Linked DNA regions of Homo sapiens: region 1 is linked to region 2. Evidence: fine-mapped expression QTL. A gene starts in region 2. The other region holds a variant in brackets. All regions are shown on one strand. Distances are between the middles of the regions. Region 1 overlaps THBS4 (thrombospondin 4). Region 2 holds the start of MTX3 (metaxin 3).

Evidence for each region.
Region 1: its variant is fine-mapped to the expression of MTX3 in whole blood (INTERVAL, PIP 0.96).

What each region holds. Positions count from the first base shown.
Region 1 is chr5:80,070,723-80,073,636 of GRCh38, forward strand. THBS4 (thrombospondin 4) reads left to right here. Exons shown (of 22, transcript NM_003248.6): 12 at 1-28; 13 at 299-458; 14 at 1,556-1,674; 15 at 2,553-2,605. It overlaps THBS4-AS1 (THBS4 antisense RNA 1), which reads right to left. Exons shown (of 8, transcript NR_109930.1): 4 at 1,786-1,943; 5 at 1,364-1,501; 6 at 1,010-1,169. Among named protein-coding and RNA genes, the nearest start is that of THBS4-AS1, 11 kb to the right of the region's middle. RefSeq lists an enhancer at 1-666. The variant TAGA/T (reference allele first, on the strand shown) is at 1,503.
Region 2 is chr5:79,989,906-79,992,819 of GRCh38, forward strand. It overlaps MTX3 (metaxin 3), which reads right to left and starts at 1,357. Exons shown (of 9, transcript NM_001363818.2): 1 at 1,253-1,357; 2 at 689-758; 3 at 255-331. The coding sequence starts at 1,333. It also overlaps a transcript of THBS4 not described here. RefSeq lists an enhancer at 855-1,024.

The sequences.
Region 1 (2,914 bases), 81 kb after region 2:
TGACGGAGATGGGATCCTGAATGAGCAGGTACCTGCTTCGCTGGGAGGGCCTGTGAATTGCCACGTACCAGGGATGATGGGAGAAAGCCTGTGATGTCAACTATGTATATGAATCATCCCAAATGTTAGTTTCCATGCCTGCATTCCACAGCACTGCAGCTTTTTACCCTATAAGATTCACAGATGTTTGAAATATAAAACTGACAAACTTGGGCCACCAGAGTGCTGATGCTTCACAACAATGGAGGAAGTGGATTTAGTAAAAGTCTGAGTGATGTTCTGTCCTTTCATCTTTTAGGATAACTGTGTCCTGATTCATAATGTGGACCAAAGGAACAGCGATAAAGATATCTTTGGGGATGCCTGTGATAACTGCCTGAGTGTCTTAAATAACGACCAGAAAGACACCGATGGGGATGGAAGAGGAGATGCCTGTGATGATGACATGGATGGAGATGGTAGATTTATCTTGCTTTTGTCTTTTATTTGGAATTCAGTTGACCTTGTTCCATTGTTCTCTGAGAGAGTAGGAATAGAATGACTGATTCGGAGCCTTCCAGCTGTGGGTGGCTCATTGTGGCCTGCATCTGGAAGACCCAAGGTGGACTTGTGTCTATGGAAGGAGACCCCACAGCCCACTCCACTACCTAATGGCTCTGGATGTTTCCAGGACTCTGTATCATTGCCAGAAACTTTGTATGACCCCTTCAAGCAGTGTCTTGTCAGAGTGTGTCTTTATGGGGTATCTCCCTTCCCATTTCTACCTGTCCTCACTCTCCACTATCCTTTCTACATGTGAGAGACCCAGAAGTGGAGAACTGAATGAGAAGGCATTGAGCAGGGTCACAGACTATGCATCACAGGCTACACATCCCATTGTGGGCCCTTGAAGGAAAAACCTTTTTGAAATACCACCTGCCCCAACACACACATACACACACACACACACACACACACACACACATACACCACTCCAGAACATGCACACCCCCCTAAAACATGACCTCACCTTCTGCAAGCCTAACTGATGACCCATTTCCAGTGGTATATGCTGGTAAGCAAATCACAGAAAGCCCTAGTTGGTAGCATTTTCCAGTTTCCATGATGTAACTCCGCATTGTCCTCATTGCTGATTTCAAGCTACCAATGTGACATCATCAAACACAAAACTGAAAAGAGAGGGACACAATGGACCCAGCTCCAGCACAACACTGCCTAGAGCCCTAGGGTCTCAGTCATAGCTCAGATACCCACGAGATCCTCCCTCTCCAGGGTCAGCCATACAGCCATCATGATCCCCTCCTCGTGGTTGCTATCATAGCCCTTGACATCTTGGACAAATTAGAATTCAGTCGATAAATACCTCTGAGAGCTGTTCATTTTTAAGTCTCCCAGAATCCGTCCTTTGAAGCTACCTCTGGATAACTGCAGAAAAGGGTAGTCTCTGTGTGACACTGGCCCAGGCAGAAGTGACTCACCATGCGCCTGATCTCTCCAGCACC[TAGA/T]AGAAGTCAGTGACATTCCCCTGACTCAAGGTAGCATTTCTTTCTCACAGGAATAAAAAACATTCTGGACAACTGCCCAAAATTTCCCAATCGTGACCAACGGGACAAGGATGGTGATGGTGTGGGGGATGCCTGTGACAGTTGTCCTGATGTCAGCAACCCTAACCAGGTTAGTAGGATACTGGGGAATTCAAACTCCAGGCTGAATTCCTCTATGCAAAGACTCATTTAAGACGGGTGTCTAGAAAAACAGCAGAGCCTCTTAGCTGTTGCCACTTACCTAACAAAGCAGAGGTGGAAAAATGACACACTGTGGGCCTGAAGATGGTGGGATGAACACCACACAAGATCTGAAGCCCTAGGGACTATCTCCCAGGCTGTCGATTGCCTGTGAGGTTAGTAACACGAACTTCATGATGCTCAATACAAGTATTTTTCCTGCAGAAAGGAAAACGGAGCATGGAAATTAACCATTGGGAGCCTTGTGTCCCTTTAGTCCCTAAACCCCTACACAGCCTATGTATGGACATTTCAGATTAAGTTCAGCCAGGGATGTGTTGCATCTCCCTTCTCACTCCTCCTCCCTGTCTGGATAATTGGGTATGATGTGTCATTTATTTTTAAAGCCCTGAGAGAGGGGAGTCATGGTTGCCCTCTGTGACTCACTCATGATTTTGGCCAAATTGCAAATTGCAGAAGCAAAGCAAAATCAACCTGCCTTCTCCCCATGCCTATGGCTGGCTCCCTGTGACCCGTGCCAGAGTTCCATGCCTCCACCTGCCACCATGCTACCCCAGCGCCCCTTTCCAATCAGCTCATCTGGTGTGTGGGCAGCCCATCCATGTAGCTTGATATTTTAGAAGGCTTTTTTGAAAATTCAGCATTGTGCCTACACCAATATGGTGTTGTCCTTTTGCAGTTTTGCACCACCCCGGTTCCAGAGAAATAATTCCCCAAATCCAATGATGATGGGTGAGGTCTGCCTTCTCTGGAACATTCGGTACATGCAGGCCCAGGAATAAATAACATGTGCTGTTCTCTTTGCAGTCTGATGTGGATAATGATCTGGTTGGGGACTCCTGTGACACCAATCAGGACAGGTATGGCATGTCTCCCAACTGCAGAGAGACAGATGCAAACATCCGGAGAGGGTTTTTGGTTTGTTTTTTTTTTTGAGGCGGAGTCTCACTCTATCACCCAGGCTGGAGTACAGTGGTGCAATCTCGGCTCACTGCAAGCTCCGATTCCCAGGTTTATGCCATTCTTCTGCCTCAGCCTCCCAAGTAGCTGGGACTACAGGCGCCCGCTACCATGCCTGGCTAATTTTTTTGTATTTTCAGTAGAGACGGGGTTTCACCATGTTAGCCAGGATGGTCTCGATCTCCTGACCTTGTGATCTGCCCGCCTCG
Region 2 (2,914 bases):
AATCTACTTACATACAAATTTCAATAAAATTCAAGCAAAGTTTATTAAAATATAAACTGACTACCTCTTCATATGACTTTCAAATCACAGAACTCATGCTTTAGAGCAGTGATTCTCAAATCTATTTTTACATCTTGTCCCAGGTATCTCCAATTGTCTAATGAGTTGGCAAAAAAAAATAAATAAATAAAATAAAGCCCAACATGCAGGGATCAACAATCTACCAATCTACTTCTTCAAAGTGAACCACCCACCTGTTTTCTTAAAAAGTTTAGTATTTTTGCTGGCTGAGAAACCATGTCGTCTTCAGTTGTCAAAATTGGTACATCGCCTATAATCAAAAAACAGTTTACATACAAGGACACAGTGTGATTTCCTCTGAGAGATTCCAATATCCTAAAAACTATAGCAGTTGCACATTTAGAGGGGAAAAAATGAGTAAGCTTGTCTTGGTTTTTTTGCTGTTTCACAAAGAGCGGTTCTAAAGAACATTTTCGTTTCTCATAATTTCCAGTGATTTCGCTTGCACTTTGAGGTATTACTCAGAATGATCAAACCATAAACAACACAGAGCCAAGGTCACGGTAAGAAACTAAATCCTCAATATTATAGCTATATACCTCACAGCTTTAAATGGAAGAAGAAAAAAAAGAGTGCAGAAAGGGGAGTGTAAAGGTTTACACTATACCTCTTGAACCTCTCCAGGTGTTATCTATCACATTGACTTTCAAGGGTGCACCAGAAAATTTGGCATAAGCCTGAAACAGAGTTTGCAATCAAACATTTTAGACCAAGTGCGTAATGCAAAGCTGCAGAGCAGCTTTACTTCACAGCCCCATCCCCCAAAGGCAGAAGGCGACTGATACTGAGGCCGCATCCCTCCCCGTGATCTCAAGTAGGGACGCGGGCGCCAGCCACCCGGCTTTCGAGGACTTTGCTCCCCAAAAGGTCCTGGGGATGCAGAGTAGGGAGGGCGCGCCCCTTGCTTCGGGGTTTCACTCCACCGCCCAGACAGCTTTGTGAGGCGGACAAAACTCGGAGCCAAGCGGAGAAGCCTTGATGTCGCCGCCGGCCTTCGGCGGGGGTATCGGCCAGGTTGGGACTCGTCGGTGGGAGGGAGCCCAGGGCAATGCAGCGTGCAGCGGCTCGGCCCTCCTGGACCCCGCAGCGCAGCGGGAAACTGGGGCAAGTCAGCCTGGCGCCTCCAGCCCCGCCCCTTCCTCCTGCGCCCTGGCCCGCGAGGCGGCCTCACCATCACCACCAGGGACTCGCTGTGAACCGATGGGAGTCCCCAGCCGCCTCCCCAGCAACTGAGTTCCAAGGGGGCCGCCATCTTGCGCGGGCCGACCTTTACTATCCCGGAAGTACTTTTCCTCCTAATTTCCGGCACGTGAAACGCGGGGGCGTGGCTAAGGGAGGGAAGGGTAATTTGGGGGCTCTTGAGAGATGAGAGAAACAACGACTGGAGGGATTAAGAAGAACTCTTAGGAGCAGCTTGGCCTAAAGGGTAAGAGTTGTGTGCCTTAAGTCAGACCCACCAGTAATTCTTCAAATATTAATATTTATTAGATCCCTAGAGTGTTCCAAACCCTTTGAACATTAAATCTGTGTGATGCCTAAATTAACCTGTTTGTAAAACAGGGATGACCCAGTATTTACAAGATTGTGGTATTTACAATGTCGGAGAGAAAGAACTTGGCACACAGGAGGCACTCAGTAATTGTTCAACCCCTTCTCCCATGTATGTGGCCTCTGCCTGCCTTTCCAGCCTCAACCTGTTCTCACCCTCATGTTCACTGGCACAACCCTGCTTAAAAGTTACAGTATTTCTGAACGTCAGGTAAATTGTGCCCACCTTCAGTGCTGGTCCTTCAATCTGGAATATCTTTCTTCCCTATGCAGCTGCTCCCTCAAAAATGAGCTTAACTCACCTTCCCTGTGATGTTTTTACAAAGTTAGGAGCTCTGGGTTCTTGTAGCCCCTTGTGCATATTTGAATTGTAGCTTCTCTCCCTAGCTACAGACCTTTTGCCTTTCACAGAAGAGGGCTAGCTTCATAGGTTTGGGACCTGTGCAGCCACACAAGGCTCTGTGCTTAAAAAGGCTCCTCATTTGGCTGATGCTCTTCCGTCACTGTCTTGAAATTCTTAAGTTTTGAACAAGGGGCTCTGCATTTTTATTTTGGACTGGGCCCCTCAAATCATGTAGCTCGTCATGTCTGTGGGCCTAATGAGCACAGACTAAATGTTTCTTGACGTTAAACCTGACAGTTTCTCAGAAAAACTATTAAAGAGGAAATTTTGGTCTTGGAAATGCTATGATCCAAACATATGACTGGGTCTCAGAGTTAGAACTTGGGTGCTGGGTCTTTTTTCTAGAAGGCACAGTAGTCTTTCTGGGACACCCTCGCAGTCATGCCTCTGAGTTCTTTCCTCTATTCCACTGAGATGGTCGGATCTTCTTAACTAAAACTCAAAAGAAACCTCTGCAACTTTTCGTAAAATTACTATTCAACAAATATTTGCTAGGCACTCCCTTACTGTTTACATAATCATTCAAATTACAGTGCCAGCCTGCTAAAGTCTTTTTTACATGTTTCAAAACCAAGAGTTCTAAGAAATGAAAAAGAGATATGTCAGAAATGAGAATTCATTAATAATAACTGTATAATTGGAAAATGCATAACATATGTACCATTAAAACTGTCGAAACATTTATTGAGCAGCTCCTATGTCTTAGACATCATAAGGTTCTGGAACAATACAGAAATATATAAAACATGAATTCTGTCCTCGGGAGTTTACAGTGCACAAAGGAGATATACACACACCAAGGTGTAACAAGTCAGATAATCACGAGTAGGGTTAGAAATATAAGCAAAATACTACAGAAACACAAAGGAGGGACAGTGCATC